Linked DNA regions of Homo sapiens. The protein of the gene in region 4 interacts with the protein of the main gene of each other region in a pairwise test. Each region holds a gene or a part of one and is shown on either strand. Other genes may lie near its edges. The genes, in order: AKT2, IFITM3, DISC1, NAMPT and UBE2L6.

Region 1 (3,522 bases), on a different chromosome or scaffold from region 4:
GGTCTCGAACTCCTGACCTCAAGTGATCCTCCACCTTGGCCTCCCAAAGTGCTGGGATTACAGGCGTGAGCCATCGCACCTGGCCTGTTTTTATTTTTTATTTTTGTTTTTTAAAAACTTTTTAAGAGATGGGTCTTGCTTTGTTACCTAGGCTGGTCTTGAACGCTTCGGCTCAAGCACTTGGTCCACCTTGGCCTCCCAAAATGCTGGGATTACAGGTGTGAGCCACAGTGCTTAGCCTCTAGTTAACTGTTCTTAAACCAGGCTCCCTTCTGCTGGGACCTACTTCTTGTCCACCAGCTTCTCTCCTCTACATCCCTGGGCTGCCAGGACCTCTGTCCCTGCCATGCAGACTCCCTGCTCCCAGTGGACTGTCCCCTCCAGGGAGTCCTGCGGGCCAGCTCTTGCCTTGCAGTGTCTTCAGCTCCTTTGGCTAATGAATGCTGCTTCTTACTCTTGGTTTAACTTTACAAAACATTGGTAACTTATAAACTTGAGCTTGTCATTTGTTCCGAAGAATTCACAGGAGCACTCTCTCTCCCTCATTCAAGGCTCAGGGTGGTGGCTCATTTTCAAGGGGCTGTGAAAAGAGAGGGTCACTCCTTTTTGATCATTTCCCTGCTGCCTGGCTTCAAATGGCCCTCAGGCCAGGTCACTTTAGGGAAATTGGTGATCGCTCTTGGTATTCCACTTTTTTTTTTTTTTTGAGACGGAGTCTCGCACTGTCACCAGGCTGGAGTGCAGTGGTGCGATCTCTGCTCACTGCACCCTCCGCCTCCCGGGTTCAAGCAATTCTCCTGCCTCAGCCTCCTGAGTAGCTGGGATTAGGCGAATGCCACCCCTGACTAATTTTTGTATTTTTAGTAGAGACGGGGTTTCACCATGTTGGCCAGGCTGGTCTCGAACTCCTGACCTTGTGATCCATCCGCCTCAGCCTCCCAAAGTGCTGGGATTATAGGCATGAGCCACTGCGCCTGGCGTGGAATTTCACTCAGGTCCCTTCAGCTCTCTCTGGTTCTGACAGATCTTGCCCAAATTCCCATGGTTATGTGGTCATTTGCTTGCCTGTTGCTGGGGGTGGCTGGGAGGTGGCACTCAGCTGTTCGACTCTGAGGCCCAGGACTCCTGGCTGCTGGGACTCACGTGTGTCCCTGCACAGGGAGGAGTGGATGCGGGCCATCCAGATGGTCGCCAACAGCCTCAAGCAGCGGGCCCCAGGCGAGGACCCCATGGACTACAAGTGTGGCTCCCCCAGTGACTCCTCCACGACTGAGGAGATGGAAGTGGCGGTCAGCAAGGCACGGGCTAAAGTGGTAAGTGCTGGGAGCAGGGGTGGGGCTGCCAGCCTGCGGTGCCCCCACCCCCAGTGCTGGCCTGCTCTCCTTGGTTTCCATAACACAGTTCAGGGGGCTCAGCTGAGAGACAAGGCTGCCCTGCAGGGTGGGGTGATTTCAGGTGGCAGGTGCCCTAGGGTGTGCTCCATGCCCGTAGGGGAGGGAGCAACCTTGGGTGGACCCACTGCAGGTTCGTCCTGGGAGTTGGTGAAGACCTGGCTACCCCCACGTCAGAGCCCAGCCCTCCCAAGGCCCTGTGCCTGCAGAGCCTGGTCTGAAGGCCGCTTCAGAACACACAGTTGCTGCCCAGAGCCTCCCTTCCTGCTCCAGCCTAAGCCGTTTGGCAACAGTGTCTTTTGGTTTTCCTCTTTCTTTTGTTAAAATTTCCTCCCACGGGCCATGAGCCAGGCGCTGACTGCCCCCACTCTCCCTGTCCCTGGCAGACCATGAATGACTTCGACTATCTCAAACTCCTTGGCAAGGGAACCTTTGGCAAAGTCATCCTGGTGCGGGAGAAGGCCACTGGCCGCTACTACGCCATGAAGATCCTGCGGAAGGAAGTCATCATTGCCAAGGTGCGTGCCCCGGGAATTGCGCTCGCGAGCCTCTGTGGGGGCTGCGGTCTGGAGCCTGACCCTGAGGCCTGGACGCTTACCCGCGCTTTCTGCTGCTGTGGGCTTATTTCCCCCACAAATTCCCCCTAGTCAGAAAAGGGGGAGCCTGAGGCCCAGAGAGGAGCAGCAGGCCTTGCTGCTGAGTCCCCACCTCCACCCTATGTTAGGGGCTGGGGGTGCCTGTGGAGAGAGAGAGCCTCGGGGCCCCACCCAGCAGGTACTGTCAAGGGAGGCTGGGGCCTGTTGGGGAGGACGTCGCTGTTGGGGAGTCCCGGGCTTTGCTCAGGGTATCCCAGGTGGAGGCCGGGCCAGGAGTGGAATTCTACTTTTTCCCTTATTTGAATTTTTTGTAGTGGAAGATTCCAAAGACATTCAAAAATTTAAAAAGAAAATAAATATTACGGACCCCCATGTAGCCATTGTCCAGTTTAACCAGTTATCAGCGTTTAGCCAGCCTTGTTTCCTTAGCTCTGCCTGTCCCTCTTGTTCTGGAATACTTTAAGGCCTGTCCTAGACAACACGTCACTTCACTCATCCATACTTGAACATGTGTCCTGACAGATGAAGACTGTAAAGAATATAATCATGTGGTGCTGCCATCAGAGCCAACCAAATTAGCTGTTCATTCCTGATGTGACGATTGGGCCTAAGGCAGCCTTCCTCAGCCTCAGCACTGTTAACGTTTTGGGACAGATGATTCTGCGCTGTCGGGGCAGCCCTGTGCATTCTAGGGTTTCAGCAGCACCCCTGGCTTCTACCCACTGAAGCCAATACTAGCTCCCCAAGTTGTGACAATCAAAAATGACTTTTGGGTTGGGCGCCACAGCTCACGCCTGTAATTCCAGCACTTTAGAAGGCTGAGGTGGGAGGATCGCTTGAGCCCAGGAGTTCGAGACCAGCCTGGGCAACAAAGCAAGACCCTGTCTCTGTAAAAATAAAAATAAATTAGCTGGGCATAGTGGCGTGCACCTGTAGTCCCAGCTGCTCAGGAGGCTGAAGTGGGAGGATCAGTGGAGCCTCAGAGGTTGAGGCTGTAGTGACCCATGTTCACACCACTGCACTCCAGCCTGGGCGACAGAGCCAGACCCCCAGCTAAAAAAAAAAAGGGAAAAAAAAAAAAAAGACTTCAGACATTCTCAGGTGTCCCCTGGGGATAAACTTGCCCCAGAGAGAGCCTGTGTTCACGTTGCTGCAGGTGGCTCCAGATTTTTGGAACCACTCCTGGTGGTTCTGCTGTACAGTCAGGTACCAAATTAGAACCTGAATTAGAGTCACCCAAAGGGCTTGTGAGACAGTGCTGGGCCCACCCCGAGTTTCTGACTCAGTGGGCCTGGGGGTAGGTCCCAGGAATTTGCATTGCTGCCAGTTCCCAGGCGGTGCTGAGGTGCTGTGTGGGGACCACACCAAGAAGCACTGTTTTTCCTTCTTTGGGCAAGAATGCTTTCTAGGTGGGACTTCCCACAGCCTGTGGTGGCACCTCGGGGCTCTCGTGATGTCTGTTTGTCTCCCTTGCAGGGACGTCACAGGTGTCTTGTCCCTAGCAGCCTGGTCCTTACATTGTGACATTCCTGCTG
Region 2 (2,857 bases), on a different chromosome or scaffold from region 4:
GTAATGGGATAATCCAGCTGCCTGGGCACCACACTGAAGGTAATGGGATAATCCGGCTGCCTGGGCACCACACTGAAGGTAATGGGATAATCCGGCTGCCTGGGCACCACAGTGAGGGTTATGGGATAATCCAGCTGCCTGGGCACCATAGTGAAGGTAATGGGATAATCCAGCTGCCTGGGCACCACAGTGAGGGTTATGGGATAATCCAGCTGCCTGGGCACCACACTGAAGGTAATGGGATAATCCGGCTGCCTGGGCACCACACTGAAGGTAATGGGATAATCCGGCTGCCTGGGCACCACAGTGAGGGTTATGGGATAATCCAGCTGCCTGGGCACCATAGTGAAGGTAATGGGATAATCCGGCTGCCTGGGCACCACAGTGAGGGTTATGGGATAATCCAGCTGCCTGGGCACCATAGTGAAGGTAATGGGATAATCCAGCTGCCTGGGCACCATAGTGAAGGTAATGGGATAATCCAGCTGCCTGGGCACCATAGTGAAGGTAATGGGATAATCCAGCTGCCTGGGCACCATAGTGAAGGTAATGGGATAATCCAGCTGCCTGGGCACCATAGTGAAGGTAATGGGATAATCCAGCTGCCTGGGCACCATAGTGAAGGTAATGGGATAATCCAGCTGCCTGGGCACCACAGTGAGGGTTATGGGAGACGGGGTTTCACCGTGTCAGCCAGGATGGTCTCGATCTCCTGACCTCATGATCCTCCCACCTCAGCCTCCCAAAGTGCTGGGATTACAGGCGTGAGCCGCGGCGCCCGGCAGAGGTGAGGGCTTTGGGGGAACGGTTGTGGGGCCTGGAGTGTGGAGGCGTCAGCGCAGGCCTGGCAGGAGCCCTGAACCGGGACAGTGGGGTCCTGCAGCTGCTGGCCTGGGGTGTGGAGACCCCCAACACAGGGGAAGTCTCCAGGACCCCACACCACTAACAAGATGAGCCTTGTGCTCCCTTGGGCTCTAGAGAGGAAGCCCCTCTTAGCCCTCAGCCCCTCTTTCCTCCCTCTCCTAAAGTAATTTGATCCTCAGGAATTTGTTCCGCCCTCATCTGGCCCCGGCCAAATCCCGATTTGACAAATGCCAGGAAAAGGAAACTGTTGAGAAACCGAAACTACTGGGGAAAGGGAGGGCTCACTGAGAACCATCCCAGTAACCCGACCGCCGCTGGTCTTCGCTGGACACCATGAATCACACTGTCCAAACCTTCTTCTCTCCTGTCAACAGTGGCCAGCCCCCCAACTATGAGATGCTCAAGGAGGAGCACGAGGTGGCTGTGCTGGGGGCGCCCCACAACCCTGCTCCCCCGACGTCCACCGTGATCCACATCCGCAGCGAGACCTCCGTGCCCGACCATGTCGTCTGGTCCCTGTTCAACACCCTCTTCATGAACCCCTGCTGCCTGGGCTTCATAGCATTCGCCTACTCCGTGAAGGTGCGTATGGCCCCAGGGAATGCTCAGAGGGTGCCGCTGAGCCTGGAGCTCCACCTGCCCACATGCTGCCTGGGGTGGGGACTTGTGTGTCCCTGTGACTGTGAGTTTGTGTGCACCTCTGTCCCGTGTGTGCCCACGTCAGTGGCTTTGTCTGTGTGATCTGTGTGTGTGTGTGGCTTGGGGAATCTGCCCAGTGCAGGTTTAGGAGGAGGCTCCAGGAGGCTGGCTGGCTGGCTCAGAGTCTGTCCCCGGCTATCCACTAGCCCAGAGCAGTTCTCCCTATAGCCCAGTAAGAAATTACACCTTCACCTTCCAGACTGGCACCCAGGCTCTCCCAGAAAGTGAGAAGGGAACTCACAGGTGACTTCACCCCATGGTGGGGAGAACAGCCTGTGCTGAGGTCAAGGCAGAAGGAGGATGAGCCCCGAGGCTCCTGGAGAGTCTGAGCCCGGGTGAGGAAGGGGAGGAGGTGGTCCCTGATCTCAGGGCGGGGAGAGCCAATGAGGAGACGGAGCCATAGCACGCGGCTCTCAGCTGGGGGATCCTGGTCCCCTCACCATCTCCTCTCCCCCAGTCTAGGGACAGGAAGATGGTTGGCGACGTGACCGGGGCCCAGGCCTATGCCTCCACCGCCAAGTGCCTGAACATCTGGGCCCTGATTCTGGGCATCCTCATGACCATTCTGCTCATCGTCATCCCAGTGCTGATCTTCCAGGCCTATGGATAGATCAGGAGGCATCACTGAGGCCAGGAGCTCTGCCCATGACCTGTATCCCACGTACTCCAACTTCCATTCCTCGCCCTGCCCCCGGAGCCGAGTCCTGTATCAGCCCTTTATCCTCACACGCTTTTCTACAATGGCATTCAATAAAGTGCACGTGTTTCTGGTGCTGCTGCGACTTCACCTGGGGAGGGGTCTGGCTGAGGGTTCGGAGCGTGGTTCTGAGACTGAGCAGGTTGGTCAGCCCCTGCACTGCCCCTTCCGGCCTCTGTGCATCTCTTGGGGACCGGGCAAGTGCTCAGGCCTTCTGGTTTCGGGCCTCCTGCCGTGAGCAGCAGCTGGATCCAGGACCCTGGGAGGAGTTCCTGTGTCCTGCAGGTCTCAGCTCCTACTCAACGTGGGCTCTTTCCGGGAACGTCAGTGCTGAGTCCGGGACACCCTGGGCCCAAGGCCACGCTCGCGGCCTGTCGGCAATCCAGGCTGTCGGCTCAGGACAGAGGGAAGGGTTAAGCCCCCAGCAGGGCCAGGGAGGGGCAAGGTGGCACCGGCTCCCCAGCTGCTCCCAGGCCCTGCTCTGTGGTGCTGGGGACCTGGCTTTAGTTCCTCGGGGTGGAGGGGGCACCGCGCTGCCTGCCTCCGAGCTGTCTGGAGCAGCCAGTCCTGCAGATGTGGGCAGCTCAGGGCCCGTGG
Region 3 (3,522 bases), on a different chromosome or scaffold from region 4:
GCGGTGTTTCTCTTCTCCAGTTAATTAAACTAAATGTGATCATATGTGCAAAGTGCTTCAGACAGGGCCTGGCATCTAGCAAGTACCCAGAAATTAACCATTGTCATCATTAGAGAAATAGCTCCAATTTAGAGAGTTTGAGTCAAAAGCAAATGAAGCTCTCCCTTCTGTCCATAGCTCAAATTAAATTCCTATCTTATCTCAAATGGTAGAATCTGGACACACTTTTTCTTTAGTGTAAGTATTGTTGTCTATGGCAGTCCCACAGCTGGGCAGGGAAAAACATGACACTCTCTTCAATTACACTCATGTACTGCATAATGACATTTTGGCCAATGACGGATCACATATATGATGTGACAGTGGTCCTGTGAGATTATCGTACTGTGTTTTTGTTGTACCCTTTCTATGTTCAGATATGTTTAGATACAACAATACCTTACCATTGTGTGACACTTGTCTGCAGTATTCAGTACAGTCACATGCTGCACAGGTTTGTAGCCAAGGAGCAATAGACTATTCCATCTAGCCTAGGTGTGTAATGGGCTACACCATCCAGATTTGTGTAAGCACACTCTACGATGTTCACACAATGATGAAGTCACCTAATAATGCATTTCTCAGAATGCATCCCTGTCATTAAGTAACGCTAGGCTGTACTTGAGTATCTGTTGTGTGACAGCGGAATTAACAGAGTAGTGGGAATGACAGAAATAACACAGTCCAGGGCATAGGACTTACAGGAAGGCAGAGTTTGCCTCAATAGGAGGAAGAACCTCTTGACAGTGGGAATTGTCTGTGATGAGGTGGGCTGGTCAGGGACTTGTTTTCCCATGGTGCTTACACAGAGGCCCCAGACTGCTCACTGGGGTTGCGGCTGAGGCCTTCGGGACAGGGCAGAAGGTCGGTGAAGGATCTCCAAAAAGATCCTTTGAAAGAGTAGGATTTCTAGTGTTTGGGGGCCTTATTGATATTATATTTTAATTCCTTAACCTCCTCTCGCTTCTACTTAAGTAAAAATGAGAATCTCAGGAATTTAAGTTTCAGCTTCTTCTAAAAGATGGTTGATCCTCAGTGTTTGTGGATTCTATATGTGTGAATTCGTCTACTTGCTAAAATTTGTTGTTAACTCCAAAATCAGTACTCACAGCACTTTTATGGTCATTTTTCATTTTTATTTTATTTTTTAAGAGACGGGGTCTCTGTCTTCCAGGCTGGGGTGCAGTGGTGTGATCATAACTCACTGCAACCTTGAACTCCTGGGCTCAAGCGATTCTCTTGCCTCAGCCTCCCTAGTGGCTGGGACTACAGGCGCATGCCACCATGCCTGGCTAATTTTTTTTTTTTTTTTTTTTTGGGTAGAGATGAGGGTCTTGCCACGTTGCCCAAACTGGTCTTGAACTCTTGGCCTCAAATGATCCTCCTGCCTCAGCCTCCAAGGTACTGGGATTACAGGCATGAGCCACCATGCCTGGTGGTAATTTTGAACCTGCACAGAGTGGCAAAATATTTGGGTCACCTGATGTACACGCTTTCTACTTAGGTCAAACAAGTTCAGACCAGATGACATTCTACCTTCTCTCTCATACTACAAACTAGTATCCTTTTTGTGGTCTATTTAATGCCATCTTTTTTTACATTTTTGTGCTCTTTATTGGTGAGTTAACCATTGCAAAAGCTCCCTAAGCATAGTGCTAATGTCATCTAGTGCTCCTAAGCATGAGAAGGCTGTGATGGGCCTGATGGAGAAGATACAGGTGCTCCAGAAACTTTATTCAGGCATGAGTTAGAGTGCTGTTGGCCAGAGTACAATGCTTATGGATCAATAATACATATTAAATAAGATGTTTTTAAACAGAAACACACATAGAACAAGGTCATGTGTTGACCGATGGAGGAAGGTGTTGTGACCAGGGGTTCACAGGAACCTACCCTGTATTTCTCTTAGGAGCAATGCTTCATTATTCCCTAATTCAGTATTCACAGAAACTTTATAGAACATAACTACAGTACTGTGAATAAGGAGAATCGACTGTGAATATTTTATGCTGTTTAGAAATCGCTGCTTAGCGAGATTTCCAGGGGTTGCATGGGACTGAGAAGATGGTAATAAAGGTAGTTGGTGACCAGGCATGCAGAGGAGGGGAAGTGGAGTGGGCCCTGCAAGGTAGGCTCCACCTAAGGCCATGGAAACTGGTGAAAAATGAAGGACTCTGCCTGTAGAGTATTATAGGACGTTCCACAGGCAGGGTTGTGGCACAGTGCAAGACATGGCCACTGGGGCTGTGCCTCCAGCAAAGACGGGTATTCAGACATATCTCAGGGCAGTCCATTCAGGGCCTTATAGAGATCACTGGACGAGGTGGGCATCGTGGGGTGGGCTTTGGCTGTAAATGAATTTTTTTCCTGACCTTGTTTCCTGCATTTCTTCAGCTTCTGTTCTAATAAATGTTTAATGATACCATCATTTGGGTGTGGCGATGGTAATGCTATAGCTTTATGTGGCCCTCAAACCATTCACACAGCCTTTCTTCTGTCCCTAATATATAGGACTAAGTTACTGGTAAACTTTGCAGTTGTAATATAGAACAATTCAAAGACAAAGGGGTTAATATGATTATTCATTCATTCTTTCATTCATTCAGAAAGCATTTATCAATGACAACGAGTACAATGCCTTATCCTAGGCTTTGGAGATTGTATTAGGACAGGCTAGTAACAGGCACTACGTTAGAGGCTCAACACAACAAAATTGTGTTTTTTGCGTATGCTTCATGTTCCACAGAGATTTTTGGGGGGCAAGAACCCAGCCTGCACCATCTGAACATATGATCCCCTTAGTCACAGACTTGAGGAAGAGAATGTTAGGGAGTCCTACAAGAGCGATCAAATGCTTCAGCGTAGAGGTAACCCCATCACTGCCACTCATACCCTGTTCAGCAGAACAAGGAGAGAGGCACTTGTACTCTTTCCATGTGCCCAAAGCAGTGGAAAATCAAGTCAGTGTAAGTACTAGCATCCTATACATGGATGCAAAATAGTTCTTGCCCCCCAGATGCTCAAGGTTGAATGATGTGCACAGATAAAACCAAACAAAGGAAAATGATGGCTATAACCTGGTGCAATAAGTACTCCATTCTTCCAGTGGGTCAGAAAAAAAAACCCAAAAAACAAAAAACAAAACAAACCTTGGCATCATCCTGGTGCATTTTCCTCAGACCCCACCTGTGATGTATTAGCAAATCCTGTTGGCTCTATATTTAACCAGCGGTCTTCTGAATATAACCGGAATCAGATCACATCTCACCATCTTCACCATTGCCACCATCCTCACTATCATCCAAGCTCCTGTCATCTCCTTCCTGAATGTTCCCATAGCCTCTTACCTGGCCTCCCTTCTTCTGCTCTTACTAACAGCAGCCAGAGTGAAACTGTTTAAAACATAAGTCAGATCATGTGCTCCTCTGCCCCAAACTCTCCAGTGGCGCCCCATGAACTTCAGAGTAAAATCAGAACTTTTAA
Region 4 (3,115 bases):
AAAAGATGAGTGCTAAAGTAAGCTTTTTAGGGCCCTTTGCCAATAGGTAGTCATTCAATCTGGTATTGATCTTTTCACAAATAACAGAACTGAGAAACTTTTATATATAACTGATGATCACATAAAACAGATTTGCATAAAATTACCATGATTGCTTTATGTTTATATTTAACTTGTATTTTTGTACAAACAAGATTGTGTAAGATATATTTGAAGTTTCAGTGATTTAACAGTCTTTCCAACTTTTCATGATTTTTATGAGCACAGACTTTCAAGAAAATACTTGAAAATAAATTACATTGCCTTTTGTCCATTAATCAGCAAATAAAACATGGCCTTAACAAAGTTGTTTGTGTTATTGTACAATTTGAAAATTATGTCGGGACATACCCTATAGAATTACTAACCTTACTGCCCCTTGTAGAATATGTATTAATCATTCTACATTAAAGAAAATAATGGTTCTTACTGGAATGTCTAGGCACTGTACAGTTATTATATATCTTGGTTGTTGTATTGTACCAGTGAAATGCCAAATTTGAAAGGCCTGTACTGCAATTTTATATGTCAGAGATTGCCTGTGGCTCTAATATGCACCTCAAGATTTTAAGGAGATAATGTTTTTAGAGAGAATTTCTGCTTCCACTATAGAATATATACATAAATGTAAAATACTTACAAAAGTGGAAGTAGTGTATTTTAAAGTAATTACACTTCTGAATTTATTTTTCATATTCTATAGTTGGTATGACTTAAATGAATTACTGGAGTGGGTAGTGAGTGTACTTAAATGTTTCAATTCTGTTATATTTTTTATTAAGTTTTTAAAAAATTAAATTGGATATTAAATTGTATGGACATCATTTATTAATTTTAAACTGAATGCCCTCAATAAGTAATACTGAAGCACATTCTTAAATGAAGATAAATTATCTCCAATGAAAAGCATGACATGTGTTTCAATAGAAGAATCTTAAGTTGGCTAAATTCAAAGTGCTTGACATCAAAATGTTCTAGAGTGATTAGCTACTAGATTCTGAATCATACATCACATCTGACTAGAGACCAGTTTCTTTCGAATGATTCTTTTATGTATGTAGATCTGTTCTTCTGAGGCAGCGGTTGGCCAACTATAGCCCAAAGGCCAAATTTGGACTTCTTTTTATAAATGCAGATTGTCTATGGCTGCTTTCCCACTACTCCAGCCTAAGGTAAACAGCTGCAATAGAAGCCAAATGAGAATCGCAAAGCCCAAAATGTTTATTAACCTGCCCTTTACACAAAATTACACAAAAAGTTTCCTGATCTCTGTTCTAAGAAAAGGAGTGTGCCTTGCATTTAAAAGGAAATGTTGGTTTCTAGGGAAGGGAGGAGGCTAAATAATTGATACGGAATTTTCCTCTTTTGTCTTCTTTTTTCTCACTTAAGAATCCGATACTGGAAGACTGATTTAGAAAAGTTTTTAACATGACATTAAATGTGAAATTTTAAAAATTGAAAAGCCATAAATCATCTGTTTTAAATAGTTACATGAGAAAATGATCACTAGAATAACCTAATTAGAAGTGTTATCTTCATTAAATGTTTTTTGTAAGTGGTATTAGAAAGAATATGTTTTTCAGATGGTTCTTTAAACATGTAGTGAGAACAATAAGCATTATTCACTTTTAGTAAGTCTTCTGTAATCCATGATATAAAATAATTTTAAAATGATTTTTTAATGTATTTGAGTAAAGATGAGTAGTATTAAGAAAAACACACATTTCTTCACAAAATGTGCTAAGGGGCGTGTAAAGAATCAAAAGAAACTATTACCAATAATAGTTTTGATAATCACCCATAATTTTGTGTTTAAACATTGAAATTATAGTACAGACAGTATTCTCTGTGTTCTGTGAATTTCAGCAGCTTCAGAATAGAGTTTAATTTAGAAATTTGCAGTGAAAAAAGCTATCTCTTTGTTCACAACCATAAATCAGGAGATGGAGATTAATTCTATTGGCTCTTAGTCACTTGGAACTGATTAATTCTGACTTTCTGTCACTAAGCACTTGGTATTTGGCCATCTCCATTCTGAGCACCAAACGGTTAACACGAATGTCCACTAGAACTCTGCTGTGTGTCACCCTTAAATCAGTCTAAATCTTCCAGACAAAAGCAAATGGCATTTATGGATTTAAGTCATTAGATTTTCAACTGACATTAATTAATCCCTCTTGATTGATTATATCATCAAGTATTTATATCTTAAATAGGAGGTAGGATTTCTGTGTTAAGACTCTTATTTGTACCCTATAATTAAAGTAAAATGTTTTTTATGAGTATCCCTTGTTTTCCCTTCTTAAATTGTTATCAAACAATTTTTATAATGAAATCTATCTTGGAAAATTAGAAAGAAAAATGGCAAGGTATTTATTGTTCTGTTTGCCATAATTTAGAACTCACACTTAAGTATTTTGTAGTTTTACATTCCTTTTTAACCCATTCAGTGGAGAATGTCAGCTTTTCTCCCAAGTTGTATGTTAAGTCTATTCTAATATGTACTCAACATCAAGTTATAAACATGTAATAAACATGGAAATAAAGTTTAGCTCTATTAGTGAAGTGTTAAATTTGTGTGCTTCAAGTAATGCCATTTTCAGGCCTACCTGTTTTAAGTATTCCTCCAGTTCAAAGAATTAGAAGATGAGAGAAGGGCAAGTGTCAGAGTTGACTCCTTTTCTGCTTTGTGCAACTGTATAGATGACAGTGCCTTTTACTAAGGAAGAACACTGGAGGGACATCAGATTTGAGAGGAAAGAGCACGATTCCCGTGTTAAGGCTTGAGACGCCTTTGACATATCTAAATGTAGGTATTAAGTAGGCAGTTGATGATACAGGTTTGTGGACAGAAGGGCCTCAAGGTATGACTGATGTATACCTTGGAAGGTATACATCTTTGGAAGCACACAGTAAAGGATACTCTTCTAGGGATAGTATAGAGCAGGAGTTGGCAAACCCCACGCCATGAGCCAAATCCAGCCCACCATCTGTTTTTGTAAATAACTGTATTGGAACATAGCCACACCCATTTATTTAGTTACTGCCTTTGGCTGTTTTCTTGCCACAGTGGCAA
Region 5 (3,278 bases), on a different chromosome or scaffold from region 4:
AAGGTGGGGTTGGGCTTTGCTTGGAGGAGGGACTGATACTGGGTAGAGATTACTGGAGAGGGGGTTCACAGCTTATTCTGAGCTTGAAAAGCCCCAAAGAGAGGAGATAAAAATTGTGAGTCTTGGCTGAACTTACTATGAGATAGAAGGGATGCTTCCTGGACAGACTGACCTCCTCCTGCCTCTCTTCTTATACCTGTGCAGTTGTGACAGAGGAACGTTGCTGCGGTTCATGGGAGAGGCAGCTTGGCTGCACAGGGAAGGGCTCGGGAAAAGAAAGCCCGCTGTTCCCTCTGTGGACTTTGGGCAAGTTTTCGTTCCTTTCTGGGACTCGGTGTCCTAAATGACAGTGGAGGGAACTGGCCTCATAATGATAATACCTGTCACTTGACTGAGCACTTTCGGCACTGTGCTAAAAACATCACCTGCCGACTTCATTTTTATTTCCCCAACAAGCCCGTGAGGTAGTGTTGTTTAGTAGACCCGGACATCTGAGGCATGTGAGAGGTGAAGTGGTTGCCTAAGGTCATACAGATGACAAACGGCAGCACTTGGCTGACTCGCAAGCCACATGTGGCTGTTGCAACTGAAGAACTCAATTCTTTTTCTTTTTTAAGACAGAGTCTCGCTCTGTCGCCTAGGCTGGAGTGCAGTGGCGCGATCTTGGCTCACTGCAACCTCCACCTCCCAGGTTCAAGCGATTCTCCGGCCTCAGCTTCTTGAATAGCTGGAATTACAGGCGTATGACACCACACCCAGCTATTTTGTATTTTTAATAGAGAGGGGTTTTGCCATGTTAGCCAGGCTGGTCTCGAACTCCTGACCTCAGGCGATCCGCCTGCCTCCGCCTCCCAGAGTGCTGGGATTACAGGTGTGAGTCACTGCGCCTGGCCAGAACTCAATTCTTAATTGTACTTAATTTTAATCCTTTTTGTTTTTTCTACTGAGACACGGTCTGTCTCTATTGCCCAGGCAGTTAGTTCAGTGGCGCAATCTTGGCTCACTGCAACCTCCACCTCCTGGGCTCAAGCCATCCTCCCACCTCAGCCTCCCGAGTAACTGGGACTACAGGAGCATGCCACTATACCTGGCTAATTTTTGCATGCTTTGTAGATACCAGGTTTTGCCATATTGCCCAGGCTGGTCTCAAACTCGTGAGTTCAAGCCATCCACCCATCTTGGCCTCCCAAAGTGGTGGGATTACAGGCGTGAGCCACCGTGCCCAGCCTGATTTTAATTCATTTAAATTTAGATGCCTGCATGTGGCTAATGGCTACCATATTGAACAACACAGCTCTAGAGCCTGTGGCTGAATCAGTGTGCAATCCTCCACCTGGACCAGCTCAGGAGTTTTTAACTCAGGAAATGAAAGTCCTTAGGTTGGTGGGAGTGGGAGCAGGGAGAGGAGTGGTCCTTGGATGAGCTTCAGGGGGTCTGGGAACTGTCTGTTTTGCATGTGGATGTGCACATCTGTCTCGGGAGATGGGCTGCTGCCTTCACTAGGTTCCCAAAGGCATCTGTGAAAGATGAAGAGCCAGGGGGCAGTGGTGGTTTTCAGTCTTTAGCCTTAGACCTCTTTTGCCCAAGGAAAAGTTTATTTGGACTACCAATATAATGGAGGAAAACAGAGCAGTTTTTGTTGAAATGGGGATAAGACCCAGAAACCTCACTTATCTCAGTGGCCCCTGTGATGAGGAGCTTCTCTGAAGCCATGGAATGTAGTTGTTTGAAAACCACTGATGTAATCAGTCAAGGCCTTGGGTGTCACCAGCCAAGAATGAGCGGGGCGTTTGATCTGGTCGTAGAGTAATCCTAAGCGATGTAACCTTTCCCCCAAGGAGTGAGTGTGGAGTGTCAGGACATTGGGAACGGGCAGCCATGACTCCCTTCCCTCTGCCCTGATATCCTGATCTGGCCTGTCTCTCCCCAGTCCTGGAGGCCCTCAATGTGCTGGTGAATAGACCGAATATCAGGGAGCCCCTGCGGATGGACCTCGCTGACCTGCTGACACAGAATCCGGAGCTGTTCAGAAAGAATGCCGAAGAGTTCACCCTCCGATTCGGAGTGGACCGGCCCTCCTAACTCATGTTCTGACCCTCTGTGCACTGGATCCTCGGCATAGCGGACGGACACACCTCATGGACTGAGGCCAGAGCCCCCTGTGGCCCATTCCCCATTCATTTTTCCCTTCTTAGGTTGTTAGTCATTAGTTTGTGTGTGTGTGTGGTGGAGGGAAGGGAGCTATGAGTGTGTGTGTTGTGTATGGACTCACTCCCAGGTTCACCTGGCCACAGGTGCACCCTTCCCACACCCTTTACATTCCCCAGAGCCAAGGGAGTTTAAGTTTGCAGTTACAGGCCAGTTCTCCAGCTCTCCATCTTAGAGAGACAGGTCACCTTGCAGGCCTGCTTGCAGGAAATGAATCCAGCAGCCAACTCGAATCCCCCTAGGGCTCAGGCACTGAGGGCCTGGGGACAGTGGAGCATATGGGTGGGAGACAGATGGAGGGTACCCTATTTACAACTGAGTCAGCCAAGCCACTGATGGGAATATACAGATTTAGGTGCTAAACCATTTATTTTCCACGGATGAGTCACAATCTGAAGAATCAAACTTCCATCCTGAAAATCTATATGTTTCAAAACCACTTGCCATCCTGTTAGATTGCCAGTTCCTGGGACCAGGCCTCAGACTGTGAAGTATATATCCTCCAGCATTCAGTCCAGGGGGAGCCACGGAAACCATGTTCTTGCTTAAGCCATTAAAGTCAGAGATGAATTCTGGAGTGCAGCTGAGTCTTTGATGAGGGGATGGGGTGGTTTCATCAGGACCATAGAGGACTAGGGATTTAAGCATAAATTTCTGACCTTGCTTCCCTTGAATGTTCCCTAAACATCATAAGGAATGTTGGCCATGGAAAAATAGGCCATCCTTGGACAGAGGAGCTTTCAGAAGGTCCACAGGGGTGACGTCCCCATTTTATTTTATTTATTTATTTATTTATTTATTTATTTATTTATTTAAGACAGAATCTCACTCCGTCGCCCAGGCTAGAGTGCAGCAGTGCAATCTCGGCTCACTGCAACCTCCGCCTCCTGAGTTCAAGCGATTCTCCTGCCTCAGTCTCTTGAGTAACTGGGATTACAGATGCCCGCCACCACGCCTGGCTAATTTTTGTATTTTTAGTAAAGATGGGGTTTCACCACATTGGCCAGGCTGGTCTCGAACTCCTGACCTCAGGTGATCCACCCGCCTCAGCCTCCCAAAGTGCTGGGATT

The links.
Region 1: the proteins of NAMPT (region 4) and AKT2 interact in a two-hybrid assay, tested with the Homo sapiens proteins (one large-scale study listed by BioGRID and IntAct).
Region 2: the proteins of NAMPT (region 4) and IFITM3 interact in binary tests that used the Homo sapiens proteins (3 or more experiments, as listed by UniProt).
Region 3: the proteins of NAMPT (region 4) and DISC1 interact in a two-hybrid assay, tested with the Homo sapiens proteins (one large-scale study listed by IntAct).
Region 5: the proteins of NAMPT (region 4) and UBE2L6 interact in a two-hybrid assay, tested with the Homo sapiens proteins (one study listed by IntAct).

Annotation. Positions count from the first base shown.
Region 1 is NC_000019.10:40,240,325-40,243,846, reverse strand, and holds part of AKT2 (RAC-beta serine/threonine-protein kinase), read left to right. Parts: intron 1-1,159; coding exon 1,160-1,313; intron 1,314-1,777; coding exon 1,778-1,909; intron 1,910-3,522. UniProt on the Homo sapiens protein: Serine/threonine kinase closely related to AKT1 and AKT3. All 3 enzymes, AKT1, AKT2 and AKT3, are collectively known as AKT kinase.
Region 2 is NC_000011.10:319,154-322,010, reverse strand, and holds IFITM3 (interferon-induced transmembrane protein 3), read left to right. Parts: upstream 1-1,150; 5' UTR 1,151-1,197; coding exon 1,198-1,446; intron 1,447-2,020; coding exon 2,021-2,173; 3' UTR 2,174-2,335; downstream 2,336-2,857.
Region 3 is NC_000001.11:231,696,272-231,699,793, forward strand, and holds part of DISC1 (disrupted in schizophrenia 1 protein), read left to right. Parts: intron 1-3,522. UniProt on the Homo sapiens protein: Involved in the regulation of multiple aspects of embryonic and adult neurogenesis. Required for neural progenitor proliferation in the ventrical/subventrical zone during embryonic brain development and in the adult dentate gyrus of the hippocampus.
Region 4 is NC_000007.14:106,247,782-106,250,896, reverse strand, and holds the end of NAMPT (nicotinamide phosphoribosyltransferase precursor), read left to right. Parts: 3' UTR 1-2,599; downstream 2,600-3,115.
Region 5 is NC_000011.10:57,551,162-57,554,439, reverse strand, and holds the end of UBE2L6 (ubiquitin/ISG15-conjugating enzyme E2 L6), read left to right. Parts: coding exon 1-3; intron 4-1,930; coding exon 1,931-2,082; 3' UTR 2,083-2,778; downstream 2,779-3,278. UniProt on the Homo sapiens protein: Catalyzes the covalent attachment of ubiquitin or ISG15 to other proteins. Functions in the E6/E6-AP-induced ubiquitination of p53/TP53. Promotes ubiquitination and subsequent proteasomal degradation of FLT3.